Linked DNA regions of Homo sapiens. The protein of the gene in region 3 purifies or fractionates together with the protein of the main gene of each other region. This does not show direct contact. Each region holds a gene or a part of one and is shown on either strand. Other genes may lie near its edges.

The links.
Region 1: the proteins of ESD (region 3) and ACO2 fractionate together in Homo sapiens (co-fractionation; 2 studies listed by BioGRID). This does not show direct contact.
Region 2: the proteins of ESD (region 3) and MDH1 fractionate together in Homo sapiens (co-fractionation; 2 studies listed by BioGRID). This does not show direct contact.

What each region holds. Positions count from the first base shown.
Region 1 is NC_000022.11:41,514,092-41,521,203, forward strand, and holds part of ACO2 (aconitate hydratase, mitochondrial precursor), read left to right. Parts: intron 1-1,285; coding exon 1,286-1,444; intron 1,445-1,675; coding exon 1,676-1,826; intron 1,827-3,435; coding exon 3,436-3,540; intron 3,541-4,389; coding exon 4,390-4,481; intron 4,482-6,079; coding exon 6,080-6,185; intron 6,186-7,112. UniProt on the Homo sapiens protein: Catalyzes the isomerization of citrate to isocitrate via cis-aconitate.
Region 2 is NC_000002.12:63,585,064-63,592,042, reverse strand, and holds the start of MDH1 (malate dehydrogenase, cytoplasmic), read right to left. Parts: upstream 3,081-6,979; 5' UTR 3,000-3,080; coding exon 2,997-2,999; intron 2,898-2,996; exon of another isoform or gene 2,716-2,897; coding exon of another isoform or gene 2,659-2,715; intron 1-2,658. Other genes in the region: WDPCP (WD repeat-containing and planar cell polarity effector protein fritz homolog), read left to right, coding at 3,772-3,846. UniProt on the Homo sapiens protein: Catalyzes the reduction of aromatic alpha-keto acids in the presence of NADH. Plays essential roles in the malate-aspartate shuttle and the tricarboxylic acid cycle, important in mitochondrial NADH supply for oxidative phosphorylation.
Region 3 is NC_000013.11:46,780,063-46,787,174, forward strand, and holds part of ESD (S-formylglutathione hydrolase), read right to left. Parts: intron 7,048-7,112; coding exon 6,959-7,047; intron 4,289-6,958; coding exon 4,190-4,288; intron 2,730-4,189; coding exon 2,605-2,729; intron 1,554-2,604; coding exon 1,434-1,553; intron 1-1,433.

The DNA.
Region 1 (7,112 bases), on a different chromosome or scaffold from region 3:
GCCAGGTCTTCCCTCTGCATCCCCAAGAGATGAGACCTTTGGACCTTAGAGTCTGCTAGGCAGATGCTTGTCCTGAGGCAGAGGCCCTGGGGTTTCTGTAAGATTTCTGGGAGCACTGGTGGGTCCTGAGAGTTCACAGAGCCTGTCACACCTCTCATGTGTTCTTCCCCACATCCCCGGGTGGGGCACTAACTCCATCTGACTGATGAGCGGCAGAACCTCAGGTGAAGGCTCTTGCTGCAAAACAATAAATAAAAATGTTGCTTCCCGCAGGCACTATTCTGTGCCTCATGGACAGGATCTCATCCAGTCATCAGTGAACCAATGATGTGAGCACGATTGTTAGCTATTTCTTGATAGGGAAACTGAGCTCCGAGAGAAGTGACTTGTCCATGGTCCCACAACAACTAGTAGATGGTGGGGCCAGACCTCAGACCCCCCGATACAGGACGCCTGGCTCAGGGCTTGCCAAGCAGTGTCCTGCAGCTTCAGGGGGCCAGTGCCTCAGAGGTGCCTGGTGCCTGGGCCACACTTGGGTGTTGAGCCTATACAGCACCCAAGGTGTTGAGCACTTGGGTGTTGAGGTGTTGCTGCCTTTCTTACCAAATGTTTTGGGGGAAGTGCTCCCCACGGCTGGGAGGAGCGCCTCAGTGAAGGGAGTACTGTGAAATGGGACAGGTGATGAGGCAGGGTGGCATCGCGCCTTGAGCAAGTCACATGGGTTCTCAGAGCCACCTCCAGATGCTGAAGTGGACGAGGCATCACCTATTCTTTGCAGTTGAGGAAAAGTTCATAGCTTTGTGTACCCACTGGGGCCTCCCAGGACTTCTTCCTCAGGGGCCTTGTGGGGCTGGAGCCAGCTCCTGGAAGAACCACCAACCCCGATGAGAAGCCAGGTGGGGATGCTCCACACCCAGGATGAGGCCGGGCCTGGGCCCATCACAGGACAGTTTCTCTGGTTCTTGTCACATCCTGGGGTCATGGTGGTATGGGTGTTTGGTTACTGTGCTACAAATGAGGAAACTGAGGCATGGGGCAGCATTCAAAGGCCCAAGACATATAGCAGGAAATATCAGAGCTATTCAAGAGCCCAGGCCACCTGTCTCCCAAGGCTCTGGCTCTTCTTGGCCACCCTGGAGACGGCCTGGATTAAATGGGGCTGCTCCTACCAGTTCCATCCTGGGAGAGTGGCTGGACGTGGTTGGGAGGCCCCGGGTCAGTGGGGCCATTTTTTGGTATTCTCGGCTGAGGGCTTCTAAATATAACATCTTGGATTATTTTTCAGATTATTCTGGAAAACTATGCGTACCCTGGTGTTCTTCTGATTGGCACTGACTCCCACACCCCCAATGGTGGCGGCCTTGGGGGCATCTGCATTGGAGTTGGGGGTGCCGATGCTGTGGATGTCATGGCTGGGATCCCCTGGGAGCTGAAGTGCCCCAAGGTGAGGGTGGGGAGGGACTCATTCTGGGCTGGCTGTGGGGTGGTGGTTGGTGGGGATGAACGGGAGACGGTGGGACCCAGGAGGGAAAAGGGAACAAGTTAGACTCGAATCTTCTGGGAGGGAGGTAGAGACCAATAAGCAGCAATGTGAATGGCAGCAGGGCCATCCTGACTTCGTGGCTGGCACAGGCACACACGGCCTCTCACAGCCGCCTCGCCCCCTCCTGTCCAGGTGATTGGCGTGAAGCTGACGGGCTCTCTCTCCGGTTGGTCCTCACCCAAAGATGTGATCCTGAAGGTGGCAGGCATCCTCACGGTGAAAGGTGGCACAGGTGCAATCGTGGAATACCACGGGCCTGGTGTAGACTCCATCTCCTGCACTGGTGAGGAAGGCGGCCAGGCGACGTGGCCCCTACCCTGTGCTGGGCCTGATGGGTCTCCAGTTGGGAGTAGAAGCGGTGAATGGCCTTCACTTGAGAATCTGTCTGTTCCATTTGGGGACTTGGGATAGACAGAGGTAGAAGGAAAATTGGAGACAGCATTAGAGATTGTCTAGTCCACATCCTCATTAAACAGATGAAGAGATTGAGATACCTGTCGAGGCTGCCGGTGACTTCCTAACTGTGTGGCCACACACGGTTAGGAGCCAAGTCAGCTTCTGCTGCTGGGCCCAGGCCATAGCACTAGGCCACCTTGGGTGATCTAGACGAATCCAGAGAGGACAGAGGCAGTGGTGGGAATGGGCAGAGCCAGGGCTTCATTCATGAAGCAGCTGCAGGCCCACATCCTCCCTTCGCTGAAGTTCGAGCCTCACTCACTTCCCTTGGATTAGAGATCGGTGCCTGTCCGCCTCCAAGACCAGGTAGGAGCCAGCTGCTCCCTGCCTGTCACTCCTGGTGACCTGGCCTGGATGCCTGGTCCTCAGAAATCCAGGGAGATTTGTAACAGTCTAGACTTCCCAGGTGCCTGCCTGGGCTCCCTGGCAGCCCTGCAGAACTCTGGTTCCCCTGCAGTGATGGGGGCTCACTCCTGCCACGGGACTGCTCAGTCAGGACGTTGGTAACAGGCCCATACCTCCGTCCTAGTGGCTCCTGAGGCAGGTGGCCTGGTAGCAGCTGCAGTACCTGTGAGCCCCACCAGTTCTGTGACGCTTTGTGGTCCAGACAGTGTGTATCATTTCAGTTTTTGTTTTTGTTCTTGTTTTTTGAGACAGAGTCTAACTCTGTCGCCCAGGCTGGAATGCAGTGGTGCAATCTCGGCTCACTACAACCTCCGCCTCCTGGGTTCAAGCAATTCTCCGGTCTCAGCCTCCTGAGTAGCTGGGATTACAGGTGTGCACCATGATGCCTGGCTAATTTTTTTTGTATTTTTTTTTAGTAGAGATGGGTTTTCACCATGTTGGCCAGGCTGGTCTCAAACTCCTGACCTCAGGTGATCCACCCACCTCGGCCTCCATCACTGGAAAACTTGAGACACAGAAAAGTGTCTCCACCATGGTATGGCTGAAGGAGGGCAGGCCACCAGGCAGACAGACCAAGATCCGAATGTCAGCATCTACCTTTATGTGCTTTATGGCATGACCTTGAATCTCTCTGAGCCAGTTCCTCCCCTGCCAAAAAGAATAGCAACTGGGCAGTGTCTGGTCAGGTCAGCCTACAGTACGTGGTGCCTGTTCAATCTCTTGGGCGACAGTCAGGCCCCAAGCTCGCAGCTCAGTGTGTGGGGGCTGAATCTTCACCTGAGTCCTCTTCATTCTACCCAGCAGCCACCCTGAGCTGGGGCCCTGAGCTCTGATCCCCATGGCCTCCCCTCACCGGCCCAGGTTTTTACCCAGGGCCTCAAGGGATGAGTCGGCCCGCTGTCACCACATCTCTCTGAGTGGGAGGAGAAGCAATGCAGCTCCCTGGTGTGAAGATGCAGGTGGCCGCGTAGCAGGTGTGTGGGACCCTGGCCCGGCCACCAGCCAATGCCCGGGGCTCTGTTGCTCCACAGGCATGGCGACAATCTGCAACATGGGTGCAGAAATTGGGGCCACCACTTCCGTGTTCCCTTACAACCACAGGATGAAGAAGTACCTGAGCAAGACCGGCCGGGAAGGTGAGCTGGCAGGGGCAGGCCCGTGTGGGTGGAACAGTCACATGCCCGCTCCTCCCCAAGACAGAGCTATGCCTTTCCCTGTAGGGCAGGGGTTCTTAACCCATTGTCTCCAGACAGGCGTCCGAGGCTCTGAGAAAGCCCTGAAGAGGTGCAATATGTTTCTGAGTAGATTGTCTGGAGCTCTCTCCAGCTTCTCAAAGGGCCTGGCATCTGAGTTCAAGATAGCCCCACCTCAGGATGGGCATTTCATTTTCCCTGGAAGGTGGCTGAATGCCCGCCCTTCTCGGCCTGGTCCCTGCTGCCCCCTACAGGAAACTCCGGAAATGACATGGATCGCTTCTGTTGATAATTCCTGACCTAGCAGGGGAACATTTGGAAGGAGAACCACTTTCCCAGCCTCCCCTGACAACTTCCCTGAGGCTCTAGCCTGGCTTCTTTGGAGCTCAGAGGGCATTGGCACCTGTGAAGGGTGGTGCGTTGTGGGAGTGAACGAGGAGCCAGAGACCAGGGGCCATGGGGAGAGCCGTAAGCACGTGGAATCCTTGGAAGGCTCCTCCCTTTCCTTATTGAGTGACTGCTTCTTCAAAACCCAGCTCTTCACTTCCAGGACACCCTCCCCGGCTCTGAACCTTAGCTGGCGCTCCTCCTCTGTGTCTCCGTGTCCCTGACAGCTCCTGCACTAGGGTGTGAGCTCTGTAAGGGCAGAGACAGCAGCCTTGGTTTCTTCATTGGCCTAGTCAGTGCCCAGGGTGGGCCTGGTGTTTGGCAGGTGCTCAGGTGGGTGGTGAGTGAACTCTCAAGAACAGTTTATGTTTCACGTGCTCCATCCCCGTCCCTTGTTGATTTCAGACATTGCCAATCTAGCTGATGAATTCAAGGATCACTTGGTGCCTGACCCTGGCTGCCATTATGACCAACTAATTGAAATTAACCTCAGTGAGGTGAGGAGACAATTAACTGGGTTCAAGAAGTTTCTGAGAGTAGTGGGGAGCAGGGCGGGTCCTGCCTAAATACTCACTGAGGGCCGGGTGGTGGCTCACAGCTGTAATCCCAGCACTTTGGGAGGCCAAGGCAGGTGGGTCAGTTGAGGTCAGCAGTTCAAGACCAGCCTGTCCAACATAGTGAAACCCCGTCTCTACTAAAAAAAAAAAAAAAAATACAAAAATTAGCTCGGCATAGTGCCATGTGCCTATAATCCCAGCTATTCAGGAGGCTGAGGCAAGATAATCGCTTGAACCCGGGACGCAGAGGTTGCAGTCAGCCGAGATCGCACCACTGCACTCCAGCCTGGGCGACAGAGCGACACTGTCTCAAAAACAAAACAAGAAAAACCTCAGGGTGACTCGTGGGCCCCTGGGTCCCCAGTGTTCCTGCAAACTGCTTCCTGAAGCAGCCTGGAGCAGTGGGTGGGGAGGGGGGAGACACAGCCACGGGGAGAGCAGAGGTAGCTCTGGCTGCTGAACCAGAAGTGGATGTCAGTTTGCCACCAGCTCAGCTTTAGGAGAAGCCAAGGTTTCACCCTGAAGGGTTTTTGTTATCTGAGTTCAGAGGGCAAATCCCAGCAGGGTTAGGCACCCTGAGACGCACAGATCAGAGCAGGTGTTTGCAGAGCCAGAGGAAGGGCAGGCTAGAGGATCCCGTCTGCAGGAGTTCACACCTCGGCTCTGCCACTTAAGTTGTGTGGCCTTGGTCACGCACTTAGCCTCTGTAGGCCCCTTGCTCCATCACGTGTGGAACCTACAGCAGTCGTGAGGATTGAATGAATTCATGTAACTAACACTGACGGAGGTTTACTGCATGCTGCGCACATAGCTGAGTGCCTCGCATTTACTGATGATTATGATATGTAAAGCGTCTGGCCTTAAGTCCATTTTTGTCATGATTCCAAAAGCGGCCGGGCATGGTGGCTGACACCTGTAATCCCAGCACTTTGGGAGGCCGAGGCGGGCAGATCATGAGGTCAGGAGATTGAGACCATCCTGGCTAATGTGATGAAACCCCGTCTCTACTAAAAAAATACAAAAAAATTAGCCAGACGTGGTGGCGGGCGCCTGTAGTCCCAGCTACTCGGGAGGCTGAGGCAGAAGAATGGTGTGAACCCGAGAGGCGGAGGCTGCCGTGAGCCAAGATCGTGCCACTGCACTCCAGCCTGGGCAGCAGAGCGAGACTCCATCTCAAAAAAAAAAAAAAGATTCCAAAAGCAACATCGAATGGGAGATAATGAACTTAGGAAGCTGACAGCCTTGATCCATTCCATGCCTCTGCTGTCTCCTAGCTATGTGACTTCAAGCACAGCATGTCACTTCTGAGCTTCAGTTCCTTCATCTGCAGAGCTGAGCCCAGCCTTGCAGGGCTGGAGGGAGCCCGGGAGCGGGTGTGTGCAGAGCCAACTGCTCAGTTCTTCCCTGTGATGAGGTTTCAGTCAAGAGAAAGTCGTTGGCCTCTCTGTGGGGACGTGGTGAGGCAGTGAAAGAGGCTGTCCCCGCTTCAAGGTTTCTTCCCTCCTCTCTTTCTTCTCCTTGCATGTTTGTTTCTTCAGCTGAAGCCACACATCAATGGGCCCTTCACCCCTGACCTGGCTCACCCTGTGGCAGAAGTGGGCAAGGTGGCAGAGAAGGAAGGATGGCCTCTGGACATCCGAGTGGGTGAGCACCTTCCACCCCATCTGTTTAGCAGGTCTCAGGGCCAGTGGCTCTGCCCAGGGCTGTAGACAATCACCTATGCCTACTGTGTGGCACTTTCTAAGGTGGGCAGTTTCTGAAATGGGTTTATTATTGAAAAATTACTTTTTCGGCCAGAAGTGGTGGCTCATGCTTGAAATCCCAGCATTTCAGGAGGCCAATGCAGGTGGATTACTTGAGTCTAGGGGTTCAAGACCAGCCTGGGCAACATGGAAAAACCCCGTCTCTTAAAAGAAAATGCAAAAATTGGCCAGGGGCAGTGGCTCACACCTGTAATCCCAGCACTTTGGGAGGCCGAGATGGGTGGATCATGAGGTCAGGAGATCGAGACCATCCTGGCTAACACGGTGAAACCCCATCTCTACTAAAAATACAAAAAATTAGCCAGGGGTGGTGGCAGGCACCTGTAGCCCCAGCTACTTGGGAGGCTGAGGCAGGAGAATCGCTTGAACCCAGGAGGCGGAGGTTGCAATGAACCGAGATTGTGTCACTGCACTCCAGCCTGGGTGACAGAGCGAGGCTCCGTCTCAGAAAAAAAAAAAAAAATTGGCCAGGTGTGGAGGCGCATGCCTATAGTCCTAGCTACTCAGGAGGCTAAGGTGGGAGGATCACTTGAGTCCTGGAGGTCAAGGCTACAGTGAGCCGAGATGGTACCACTGCATTCCAGCCTGGGCAACAAAGGCAGACTCAAAACTGCAGACTCAAGCAACAGAGCCTGCCTCCAAAAAAAAAAAAAAAAAAAAAAAAGAAAGAAAAGAAAAATTACTTTTTCTTGGCAGAAAAGAAAAATATGTTTATTGTAGAGAATATTCACAATCAAGAAGAATTTTTAAAACTCCTAATCTCAACCCCCAGCCAGGAGCAAGCTCTTAGAGCTCTTGGAGAGGTGTG
Region 2 (6,979 bases), on a different chromosome or scaffold from region 3:
TAATTAAAGAGATGGACTCTGGAGCCAGACTTTCTGTGTTCAAGTCCTGGCTCCACAACTCATTAACTGCATGCTCTAGGACAAGTTACTTAACCTTTCTGTATTATTTCCCCATAGTAAAATGGAGATAATAATAGCAATTACCTAACAAACAGAGTAGTTTTAAGGATTAAAAGAGTTAACACACAAAGCACTAAGAACAGTACGTAGTGAGTATTTATAAATATCATCACAGAATTTTCCTCTAAAGACTTTAATAGCCTGTGGTTTTCTATTTACATTTCTGTTGCTCTGTATTAGGCCATGAAGCGCTCTTGAGAACAGTCTGTCTTTGATATGGATTTGCATTTCCACAAAAAGTATTTGTTGAATGAAGGAAGGTTAGGGTATAAAGTATGAACAGATACTACTTCAATGAACAGCAAACTAGGATAAGAAAAGGGGGGCTGAAGAGAGTGAAGATCACTATCTATTAAGTTTAACTTCCCATAAGGTCACCTATATGGTTAGAATAATGCAGTCAATTTTAGTAGCTACTTAAAAACATGTTCACAGTATCACAGTCCTTAGTGAAGGGGTTGTGGCCACCTAATGAACAGTTAATTCCACCTCAGCAGTTTTCTTCTGTGTCTTTGGGGAAATTACTTTCCCAGGTAGGTAATTCCATCTTATTAATGGTAGTATGAGGCTTAGTGTTTGAATGTCTGAAGATGAAACAGAGAAAGAAAAGTCCATGTATGGTTCTTTCTGCTCTTCTGCAACATTGCAGTTGAAAAGCAGGAGGGTGGGAGAGTCCTGCTGACTTTCACAATGTTATAGTGTGAACATAGGTTACTATTCTTTGCTCAGATATCTGGGCAGTGTGCCAAGGTCCAAAAAAGGAACGTCTTTGCTCTTAGCAGGGCACCAATGACTTTCCTGCAGATGCAGGCTCTGTGCTAACTTCTCAGCTATAAAGATTGAATTTAAGTGTCTGTTATTCCACAGACAGAGCCACATATTTCTTTTTCACTTTCAAATTTATATATATTTCTAAATTACATGTATTTCTATAACACAAAAAACTAAGCAGTACCATTTAGATTCCTTCATACAGTTTATTTTGCTGTCACTCCCTACAGACAACAAGCAAAGAATCCTCCGCTTTGAATGAGCTTACAGAAGAAGGCTCTTTTCTAACTCTGTCCATTCACACACCCTCCTGAGGGGGCAGGGAAATTGAGTCATGTGTGAGTTTGCTGTCAGTTCCAGCAAACTGCCAGACAAATTCTTCCTCATGTTCTGTCTCTGTGTTATCTGGCACCCCAGTGACCTTCCAACGGTGGGGCCTTGCTAGGGAAACTAGCTAAGAATCTGGGGCCCAAAATCTCTGTGACCTTGGGAAAATTATCTGACCTCACCAGACTACATTATAAGAGTAGATAATATAATCTCCAAATTCCCTTTTAATTCTACAATTCCAGTATTTTGAATGGCAAGGAATAAAGCTATCAAGTAATCTACATGCTGATAACATATTTGAGTTTGTATATGCAGTATGAACTGGTAACTTCATCCGGAATCTCAGCTAGTAAAAATAAGTTTTCAGGGAGTTGAGTACACTGTCTCTCCCCCGCTGCGAGACCTCACTGCGGTGGTCCCTATAAAAATAAAAATTCAGAAAGACTTGGTAAGTGTAAGACACAATATAGAAAAATGGCAAGAGTGTGAGACTCTTGGAGCAAATCACATTCTCTTTGGGTCTCGATAAACTCCATTTTAAGATCTGAAGTGGGGAGATTCGTCAAGATGACCTTTAAAAGATCCCATTCAGTTCTAAAAGCAAAAAGTCCAAGGTTATCAGATAATAAGTACCTCTGCTTTCTAGCTAAGGTTATTAGGACAGAAACTACCGAAACCATAATTTAAATGACTAATTATGTGACAAAACATTTAGGAAACCTAGGTTTAACACCTACTGGAAATTAGTAGCTGTCTCCACTGGCCCCGTTAGACAGGCAGAGAGAGTAATGCCCTTGCCTTGAAAACGTGTCTTTTCAGGTTCTGGGAAATTTCCAATTCATTCAAACATTTCTCCACATTCTCCAGCCGTTTTAGTATTTTGCAGATAAAGTAGGAAAAACAGTCGCAACTATAAATACAAGCCATTGTATTGATAGTATGAAGCGATTTCTCTGAGTTTGATGACAAATGTCACCTTCAAGCAGTACGCAGATTATTCCTACGCCAGAGTTCCTTCACCAACTCTCCCCCTCCCCCTCTCTTTCAGCAGAGACAAGCGATGGAGATGCAGGTTACCCAGGTCTTCCATGACAAAATGGTTACTCTGTTACATTTAAGAGAGGTGCTTCTGGAATTCACAATATACAGTTCAATAAAGAATATTTGCAGTAGTTATTTAGTTAGTGATGCTGTCACTTCAATATATCCTGGCATTACAAAAAAGGTCAATGAACGGGTTCCAAATAACATTTTGAGAAATTAGATATGGCGGAAACACGTCTGCTGCAAACGCAGATCGTAATCTGGAGCACCTGGTAAATACTACCTTTCCAGCTTTTTGCTTTCAAGGTCCCTGTGACAAAAGCCGTTATAAACACTGTGGGCAAATGAGGAGAAAAAGGGGTTAGGACCCAACCTTTCCCTCCCATCGCAAACCTTATCGTCCTTATCAAACACCGTAACGTCCTTTGGAAAATAGCTGCAGCGTCGCATTTTGTCCTCCCGTCATGCAGCAGGATTAAGATCGCTCCTCTCCCAGGACAACTACTTCTCCAGAGTCCTCCTAAGAGCGCCCCATACCCCGCAAGGTGGAAATCAATCCCTTCCCATTACTGGGTCACTGCGGCAATCCCCAGAAGATGAGTCCGAGCTTGCCAAAGGGCGCGAAGGACAGTGCCTTGCACAGCTGCCTCCCAAAAGTCCCTAAAGTGCAAGAAACCCCACTCAAGGGCGCGAGGGCCAGAGGTGGGCAGGAACCCGGGGCCCACACTCACCATGATTGAAAACTGCGGGGACAATTTCAACAACTGCAAAATGAGCCTCAGAGAGTCAGGTCACCTCTACCGCGGAACTGACTCGGAGAGGGCGAGCGGTGTTAGCGAGAAAAGGCTCCGCTCCCGACGCGGCGCTCTCTGGGAACTGTAGTTTACGCTGCCCTGGTTGTGGCGCAATCTCCAAAGCATTTCCTTCAAGTGTTGAACTACACTTCCCGATACCAGAGGTTTTTTTCAAGCTCTTCTCACTGCGCTCTGCGCCGATTGCAAAGTAGTCCCTGAGGATGAGCCCCTGTGATTGGAGGACGACAACAAACGGATGGTTTGGGCTCAGGAGGAAAGGACCTGCCTGATGGAGCCCGGCAATTGGCGGGAGAGATAGCGTGTGTAACTCTAGGGAGGGGAGAATCACCCCTTAGCGACATCACCCCCACGCGCGTGACTGAGACTGCATCCTCCCATGAGGGTAAACGTGGGAGGTAAAGAGACCTTCCGCTGCGTAAAGCTGGATCGACCCGGAAACAAAATCTTTTAAAAAACGATTGACACTCTGGAGGGGCGGGGGAATTGATAAGTTGGGACGACCGGACAGCTTCTCAGGTTGCTAAGCGACGAGGCGGGAGCGCACGCACACCCTGGCTGCTTTGTAGCACCTGAGGAAACTGTGGCGGCGGCGGCGGCGTCCTGGAGACCCAAGAGACCAAGCGAGCGTGTCGCTCCCTCTCGGGTCCGAGGACCTAGCCTAGGAACCTTCTGCCCGGGGTAGTGTCTGGTGATGAGGCGAGAGTTTTGCTGGGACGCCTACTCCAAAGCGGCCGGGAGTCGCGCTTCTTCCCCACTCCCGAGACAGGTGAGCCCTGGCCCGAGGGCAAGGGGTTTTCTTTTAACCTTAGGATCCGGAATGCGGTTGGTGCGCCGTCCCGCTTTGCTTTTATCCGCTGTGCGGATGCCTGCAAGCTCGCCGGTCCCTTTTCTGAGCGGAGTATGAGGGCTGTGGGAATGCAGCTATTTTGGAGGGGGTGGTGCCCTGGAGTAGGTGCACCCCCGACCCCAAATGGAGCTCTTCCAGAGTTATATCAAAAATATTTATTGAGCATTTACTTTGTAGGAGGTGAGCCTCTCCCTTCCAGGAGGTCACAGTATACGGTTCTAATTTGCTCTAAGCCCTCCGTGAATGTTGAGTTTTGTCCATTCCCTTTTGGAAGAAACAGGATGCGCCTTAAACCATCTTGAGTCTTAAAGTTATGCCAAACAGGCATTTCTAAGGAAAGACTGGCGACTGAAGGGGAGACACTGGTTGTTTAGTCAGTCAGTCTCAGCTGGTAAAACAACTTAAGAGGTTCTCTTTAAAATTAATGCTGCCAAGAGAATTGCTGTGCTTTTTGAAAGCTTGTTTCTTGTGGATGTTAAAAGGAAGATATGATGCTCGGGAGTAGCATACACAGCATATACGTAATGAAAATGAATAAAACATCTCTATTAGATAACATTGTTAGAACTTCCGTTTTTTCTCTGTCACTGATAAATGAATGCCAAGTAATATCTTTCAATTTTTCTCTATTTCAGTTTGGAGGATTTGCTATTTTTGGAAAGAAATGTAATGCTTTACTTTTAGCATTTATTAATATCATACCTGAATGACTCTCCTTGTATCTCTTTATTCATTTGGCTCTCAGACAACATACTTTCCTGGTTTTCCTCTTTTGTTACTGGTTCTCAGTTCTGCGGAGTTTCTAAATTTTTTTTAGTTGTGATCTCTTAACATTGGGGTGCCTGTATTCTCTGTCTATACTAAATCCCTCAGTGAGCTAATTCATAAGTTGCATCACTTCAAATGCTACTTTTAATGTCAAAAACTCTCAAATTTATGTGTCTAGTCCTGAATTAGTAGGTGTGCATTATTCTCAAACCTAGGTTCTCTGAGTTTTACTTTTTACTCTGAGCAGTTACGAAAAATTTCTTCCATTATCCTCCTAAATGAATTCTTCTACTAGCTGCTAACAGAAAGATTTTTCCATGTTGTTGTCCTTAAAAATATCATGATTTTACCTAATGTAAATGACGAGTTAATGGGTGCAGTACACCAACATGGCATGTATACGTACATATGTAACAAACTTGCACGTTGTGCACATGTACCCTAGAACTTAAAGTATAACAAAACAATCTCATGATTTTTGTCCTCGATTTACAGTGAATTTTACAAGGGAGACTTTTTATAACCAGAATTCTCACTGCAGTCCTATAGCAGGACAGGACATTCCCATACTCCAAGAAGGCCACAAACATGTAAGCCCCCGTATTCCCATCCAGTCCAGATATACAGAATTGAAGTCACCTGTGTGGTAGTTCACGGGCCTTGTTCTGTTTATTGCTAGTTGCCCTTGTAAATCAGGTTAAGGAGCATATTAGCACTGATTGTAAGTTACTTTTCTCAGGTAATATAATACACTGCAAGAGAAGATGTTTGGTAAGGTGGGTATATCAGCACATTTCCAATTATACTAATAAGATTGTCTGTGTTCTCTTCCTTTTGAACCGTCTTTGGTAATAGCTAATGTCAAGTAGCACAATATGTCATTGCACTTTCACTGTGAGTTTGAATCTCCAGGTGGTTTGTGAATGTGTTGCAGACATTCATTTTTTGTTAAGGCAACAAACAGAGCATTAAACTGTTATGCTATATTTGGAGTTATGCTTAACATTTTTTTTGCCCAGCCTCGCGTTATTTAGTAAGGTAATATTTAATTCAAATTGTAGAAAATGTTTGAAATACCATTCTAACAACATCCAGCAAAGATATTAAAGGATCATTAAGTTTCAAATCTCTGAAATAGAATGTTGGCTCTTGATACCCAAGGCACTTTGGAACTCACAAGATCTTATGCTTTTTTATAGTATACAATTATTTAACCACAGCTAGGCGTGGTGGCTCACACTTGTAATCTCAGCACTTTGAGAGGCTAAGGCCGGAGGACTGCTTGAGTCGAAGAGTTTGAGACCAGCCTGGGCAATATACTGAGACCTTGTCTCTACAAAAAATTTTTAAAAAATTAGCTGAGTGTGGTGTTGTGCACCTGTAGTCCCAGCTCCTCAAGAGGCTGAGGTGGGAGGGTTGCTTGAGCCCAGTAAGCAGAAGTTGCACTGGCATCACTGCACCCCAGCCTGGGCGACAAAGGGAGATCCTGTCTCAAAAAAAAAAAAAAAAAAAGAAAATTATTTAACCTCATATTAATTTTATCTCTAGCATATATAAAATTGTTATAGATCTAGTTAAAACTCATTCATCTTAATGTTTTCTTTAATGAAGTTCTATTACACTTTTAAGCTATTTTATAACAATTTTGTTATAATCTGGTTCCTTTTTGTTGAAAGTAACAATGTAATATTTAGAGAGTACTATAATGTAAAGATGCCTTTACATTGCTGTCTGTCTAAGTAGCTACATTTTTAGAAATATGTACTTTACCATAGGATCATGTATTTAGTAAACAGCCATGTTAGATAATGGAGTGTGATTGAAAATAGGATTATTTATAAAGCAAGGTTAAGACTTGTGAAATAAATCAGAGACCAAATTATTACAAATATTTTTTAAAGGAAAGATTGCAGAGCTAAATAGTTGACCTTAGCTGAAAAAAAAAACTTTGGCTTTTTACCCTTTTTAAAATTTAAGTGTAATGCTAGGTATCTTGGAAATTATTTGTTGGCTTAAGTGACATGCAGGACATTTTTGAAAGTATTCTCAAGTAATTTCTTAAAATGAATATGTAGTATTTTAAAAATAATTATTACATTCACTTTAGTGAATCTTAAACGTAGTAATTCCAAATTTAGTTATGGCAAAAATAAAAGTGCTTGTAATTTAATTTAAAACTGTAGTCTCAATGAGAACCACTTTATTACTATGTCTTACAATTTTATACATACACAATTTGTACACATTTTAAACTATAACATTTGACTGGAATTTTCAGGAATGG
Region 3 (7,112 bases):
GTTATATTTTGCTAAATTAAATATGAATAGATATTTGCAACTTACTTAAAAATATAGAAGTTACTTGCAACTTGCTTAAAAATTCTGACTTGCCATGAAAACCCTGTGAACAATTTTCCTTTTGATATATTGCTGGCTTAGATTGCAGGCCTTTCCATAATACATCTTTTGTGTATTCTATTAAGAGAGCTAATAAGTATAGTTGCTAAAATAATGCAAAACAATACATTGCAATTTAAGATACAAACAGAAGTCTATGTTCAGCGTTTCTGCTTTTTTAGCACTGAAAATTAATCTATAGTGATATAAAACAGTTCATGCTTACCTTAGTGAACATGTTACTAAATCTGACACATTTCTCTTAAACAGTACCAACAAAGCAGTGAGCAATGCATTTCAATATGACAGAATTTTTAATACAACTCTGTGTTCTATACAATGTTCTTTTTCACTGGATGAGATGCAGAGATGGGATCTCTCAACTTCAGAGTACTCATCAATGTAAATGTTTAGTGGTATCTACTAGCTTTTTTAAAGGACAAAAAAATCAACTAAGTTTGCTTTTCTACCTCAGACATGATAGACTGCCTTAAAAAATGGAAATAAAAGTGCTTACTTAGAAAGCCCACTGTCAGGCCATGAATTAATAAAACTTGATAATAAAGCGTACCAAAAACAAAATATTTGATGCCACAGAAAGAAACTGTTATGAGAAATGTTTTCATTTCTCAGTAGCACACCTAAAATAATCAAGTTCTTCCTAAGAGGAGGAAATGAATTAAACCAATTTTAAGGGCATGAACAGCCCTGTAAATTTAAAGGCAGAAGAAATTTTAAGATGCTAGTTGCTTTAACACTTCCTTATTCAACTCTTGTAACATGCTGTTCTGCACAGTATGACATACTACATATGGTAGTTATTCAAATTTGACTCTGGGAAAGGCTGAGAGTGATGTTTTTTAATCAAGCTGCATTTCAATTTTCATTAGAGGCATTAAGAACACAATTCTTAAGCTTCTACAAATCATATCTTTTACCTCAGAAAATCAAAGTCAACTTTACAAAGACATCCCTGGTAAGAATATAAATGATAGATCCTGCCACTATAACATTAATCAGTAATAATAACCTTTACAGAAAAAAAGTGTGTTCAAAACTATAGTTGGAATAAAAACAATTAAAGGAGAAGCTACATTTTATAATACTTCCAGTAGGCCAATAAGAAAGCACTCTTGCTGAATTCCTATGCGTCTGATTCTGCAGCATACACTCTATGGTCAAATTAAATACCCACCCTTCAAACACCCCAAAGTTCTCAACACTAGAAAAGTTTAGTTCCAATACTAACAATATTGTAATTTTACTCTTTGAAGGTTCCTAATATTATGTTATTCAAGAGAAATATTTATCACTAGAAGTTTAGATAATCTTACTTTGTATTTTCCAGGATTTTTCAAAGCACAGATCAGAGCTCCATGACCTCCCATGGAGTGGCCAAAAATAGACATCCTTTGGGGATCCACTGGAAAATTGGCATTTATGAGTTGGGGAAGCTAGAAAAAATTTAATAGTGTGACAAAAGATATCAAAGAAAATAAGTTCAGACATTTCAAAGTTACAGAAAATAATTACACAATCAATACTGCCAAATCATAGTCTTACAATGGTTTGAACTAGTAACAATGAAAACAAAACAAAACTAAATCCTCAGGCAGACCATGATTATTAATATATCCCTGGAAAATATATGGTACAGACTTCTTAGAAAACACTTTAGGAAGGTGATGCAGAAAGAACCTTTAAAATGCTTTTAAGTTTTGACCTAGTAATTTCACTTTTTGGAATATATTCTAAGGAAAAGTCCTTAGGGAGAAAACATTATGCACAAATATAATCAATGCAGTAATATTTATTAGGGTAAAAACATATACAAAACCATAAGTATTCTATAAGAGGAAAAAGTCAATTATGGCATATGACAGAATATTACACAATTATTAAAATCAGAATAACACTAGAAAATATTTTTATATGTAACTTAAAAAGAAGAAGAAAATAAAAAAGTTTAGAATTACGTGAAAACTAGTCATAGAAACAGTCTGGAACATACCAAAACATAAGTGTTTTGGGGGGGTAACAGAATTATGGGTAATTAAAAACTTACACTATTGTTTCTAAGTTTTTATGATATACATAGTAACAATGAAAATCATATAAAATTCAGAAAATGCATAAGCAGCATACAAATATTATTAATAGAGGTAATGCTTTACCACTTATGTTTTCTAACTAAGCCTTGGCTTATCACTATAAAATACATCCAAATGAACCAGCTGCCAGGCAAATTAAAGGTTTTTTTCATATACCATTTTCTTGGTTATTCTGGGTAGTATAAACAGGTCTCAATATAATGATTATATTCTTTAATTGTACTTAGTGTTAATTTAAATTGCAGTAAATAGAACTATAGTACTAGCAAACTTTGGAATTTTTACTAGTAACTTTTATACCCTAGTTTAAAATCCTCAGGATTGTAAGGACTTTGTGTTCAAAATCAAACTCTTGGCAGTCATCAATTAATAATTACAATACAAATTAAATTACCTCCTCTGTGACATAAGAGTACATTCTGTAGTTGGTTTTCCAAGGATCTTCAGTGGCATCAACATAAAATCCAGCACCAGTGCCAAAGTCCCAGCTCTCATCTTCACCTTTAATATTGCAGCCACCTATCAAGAAACAATCTTGTGGTTTCATCTGCTCTGTAGTAATGGCCCATGTTTAATAACACACTTTCAGATGAATCTGCAAGTCCATTTGCATGGGAACTGTTCACCAAATGTTGTGAGCTCTCTGCCTTTTGGAGCACATGATAGGATTATACTTCCTGCTCCTCTTGCCCTTGAATGGGGCCCTGCGACTCGTTCTGGCCAATGAGGTAAAAAATGACCTTCCAAGCTGGAGTATTCAGCTGCCAAGGTAAGATACACTAACTTTCTTTGTTGATGAAGTTTCTTATGTACTCTGAACATATGTTTCCTTACTCTGGTTTACCTGTCAAAAAGGACTTATATCCTCTTTTTATCTTTCAGAAATGTGTTGTGATCCCTTCCCTGATGACCCTCTCTCACTATCAGCACTTTTTAAATTCTCTTTACACAGGAGTGGGGAGGCAGATGCTTGTGCTCAACTTACTATCTTGAACTGAAAATGTTTTCTAATATGCTTTCCATCACATTTTTCCTATCTATCCAACCTCCACTGGAATTTTCTTATGTTTCTTTTTAACTTGTTACATTTTATTTTATATACTTGCATGTGGTTAAAAAGCCAACCATTGGGATTTTGAATAGAATTACAGTAACACGTAGAGTAATTTGGAGACATGACCTTGTCGTAAGATTCATTTTATCCATCTAGAAACACAGCATTTTCCCATTTATTAAAGTCTTCGTTTATGATAACAAAATTTTAGTTTCCCTTTTATATATCTATTTTCGTATTTTATATTTTTGATATTATTTTGAATTAAATCTGTTGTTATATTTCTAACCAGATATGCATTGTTTTTGTATAATATGGCCTGTGAAAGGAAATATACTACTTGCCAGGCCAGCCATATAACTTCCCTAGTTTTACTGCCATTTAAATTCCATTTCCTGAAACTTCTAGAGTCATAAAACAAGTTTTAACTGTCTGATGCATTGAGTCTCACGTAGTTGATATTTTCATTTCTCTAATGTAAATATTCAAATCATTTATATTAAAACTAATACTTGTTTAACTGTATGGTTGATGTTAACAGAGATGAAAAAAGATGTAATTATCATGCAACAAGACAGTATACCTCTGGAATAGAAAAATAATTTCCTATGCATTACACATTAGTATTTTGACAGTAGTGCCAACATGATATATGAATTGAGTTGCTCAATCTCTGCTTTGAAGTATCTTAATCTGTACAATGGGAATAGCAAAACTATCCTCTTTCATAAAGGCCATGTCATGAGTAAAATTCAATGAGGAAAATGTACAGCATGGTATTTTGGAGTCATGATGCCACTTGAAAGGTTAATAGAGATAACAGCAAAAATATAAAATGAATTGTATAATGTATATATCATACCACTTTATACCAGTCTTAAAGATTTAGATTTTTACAAAGGATATCTAGACCACAAACACTTACGAGGGCTGGTATCTGGAGCAATGACAACAAGACCATGTTCTGAAGCAGACTGATGATAACCAGATTTTGATATAAAATTTTGCTCTGTGCAAGTTAAACCTGAAGATAAAAAATATTGTTATTGGGCACACATGGACATGAAGATGTGCACCATTAATACTGGGGACTATTAGAGCAGGGGGAGACGGAGACGGACAAGGGCTGAAAAACTACCAGTTAGGTACTATGTTCACTACCCGGGTGATGGTATCTTTCATACCCCAAACCTCCATGTCACGCAATACGCTCATATAACAAACCTGCACGTGTACCCCTTTAATCTAAAATAAAAGTTGAAATTATTAAAAATAAATTATCTCATGCTATATTGTGAATGGTTTATAAGCTTTAAACTGTTTATAATACAGGAAAACAAGCTCATTTGGTATTATTATTTTTTTTGCTTTAGAAACAATTTTGAGTAAGACACTAAAATTCACTTTTTCACAAAATTTGTAATAGTATTAACCTAAGAACTGTGTTAGGTTAAGTGATCCCATAACTATCCTTTTAAAATCACTACTAAAGTTTCAATTACTAAAATCCTTTGGACCAGGAGTGTTTGGGAATTCAGAAATTTTCAAACTGTAGAGTGACAATATGGTGCATAAGCCCAATATTAAAACAACCCCAGTGAAGTGTTATCAAATATGCTAATTAAACATCGCACTATTTCTGCACCAAAACATATTCACAGTAAATAAGCAAATACTATGGTCTTCATAATACAAATACTTTTTTTTACATACAGATAGTTCTCAGCAACAAAATTTAGCTTAATCATCTTTGTATTCTTCACTGAACTAAAAAGAGAGTAATGGTGACCATATGCCATCCTTAAATTGAGTTTTAGCCTCAGTTTTTAGAAGTTTCTGTTATTTTTCCTAGCTCCATGCTTTTCAGTCATGATAGAGGAGATGACTTAATTCTTTTACTATAGGTATCTAATACTACAATGATGTGAGAATGGTGAGGAATGAACTAGCAATCGATTTTATTGATCATTTCACCAGTTGAGAGAGATTTGGTTTGTTTATACTTTTTGGCTATTATAATAGTGTGCCATGAACATTCATGTGCAAGTTTCTGTATGGACATGTTTTCAATTCTATTGGGTACACAGCTAATAAAGGGCTGTTTCAATGGTCACCTTCACTTGGGAAAGATACAAATCACTACACATGAACTATCTTTTAAGATTTCAGTTTGGCTGTTTTGATTTCAGCTAATTTCTCTATTTTAGCTATATAATAATTGTGTAATCTTTCTGTCATTGTTTTCCTTAGACTTGCTGGGAAGTAAACCTTCTGAAATTTTTTTGTCACCATTTCTCACGTGCACTGGTCAGGCAATCTTACCTTTACTCAGAAAATCAAGCCTTAATTTCCAAGGTCTATCTGTTCTTCAGCATCTCACTAAGGAAACTGTCCTGTCATTTGATGTAAACAAACAAAAATTCTGTATTTTATACTTGTAAAGCTCAGATATGTCTTGCTAGATTCAATTTTAGTTAAAACTTAGGGCCCTATTATTAGAGTACCTATGACACAATGCCTCAGGGCTTCTGGTTATTATTGTTTAGCCAAGAGATATGACTATAGTACCCCTCACCAGAAACAAAACGCAAAAACAACAGGAGAAAAAACTAAATACAGCTCTGGACTGTGAGTCAGAAAACTTGTTCAACTCCACATTAGCGTGTGACCCTGGACAATATTTAGCTTCACTGGGCCTCATTTTCTTTCTAGGGATTACATGATTTCTAAGATCATTTTTAGCTATACAATATTATATTTTCTAAGACAATTAAATAACTAATTTTGTTGCTCTTGCTTTTAGCAATACCTAATGCTCTTCTAGCAAAATCAGTGCTCTTCATTCAATCACAGAAATGTTTTCTTGAGTTAAAGTCAGATATGCACTTAATCTTTACCCTTTAAGATGAAATATTTATTCTCATTTTCAAAGACTGGTATTTGGGACTTGTCCTTGATGAAACACACATGAGGGAGGATTTGTTAAATCAAAGTTACAGGAACCAATTTGAAGGAAACAAAATTAAAATAGTACTCTGTGACACAATTTAGTTGCTAGGATTCTCTCCTTATGTTTGCTTCTGAAGATGAAGTACCAGCGTCTTGTGAAAGAAAAGTTAGCATAGAGGTTTCAAAACTGCAGGTGTCAAAATCTTACTCTTCACAATCTATTCTACAGTAGTTAATATGAAACACTGATTAAGAGAAGCCTTAGCGTTCTTTTGTGACTTTCCAGATTGTTGTCAGAGAAGCTCTATGGAGTCCAGTTAAAATATTTTAGAGAACACTGTAAGTTATTTGACTTTTTACAATAGCTGGTTTCTAATTAGAGTATCTTGGTGTCCTGATTTCACCTAATATTGTTCTAATGGACTAGTAAAGTCTCTATAAACTCCAGAAATGCTTGGGTAGGTCCAAATTAAGTAAATAAGTTTTCTAAGCCCTTGCTATTGAGTACAGAACTTTACATTCTCTGCTAAATTACTTGGTCTATTAGAAAAATATATGAAATAAATATAATTCAGTAGGTCTGAAATTATTCTGAGGATAAAAGTAACAGAGTAGACTATGACAGGTCCTTAAAGTCTTTCATAAATGGCTCAAAAAGCCTACCAAGTTAAAATAAAAGGGTAAGATAAGCCAGTTAAAAAGAAAATAGAAACGACTTTATAAAACTCAAATGCATAATACTTACCTGAGAGCCAATACAGTGCAGGGCACTTTCCTGTTTCTGCCTTTGGTGGTAAGTAGACAGCAAATTTCATTTTGCAGTTTAGTTCAACACTAGTTTTAACAAAAACAACAACAAAATATTAATGCCCCTCATTAATCAATACAGAAACAAAATA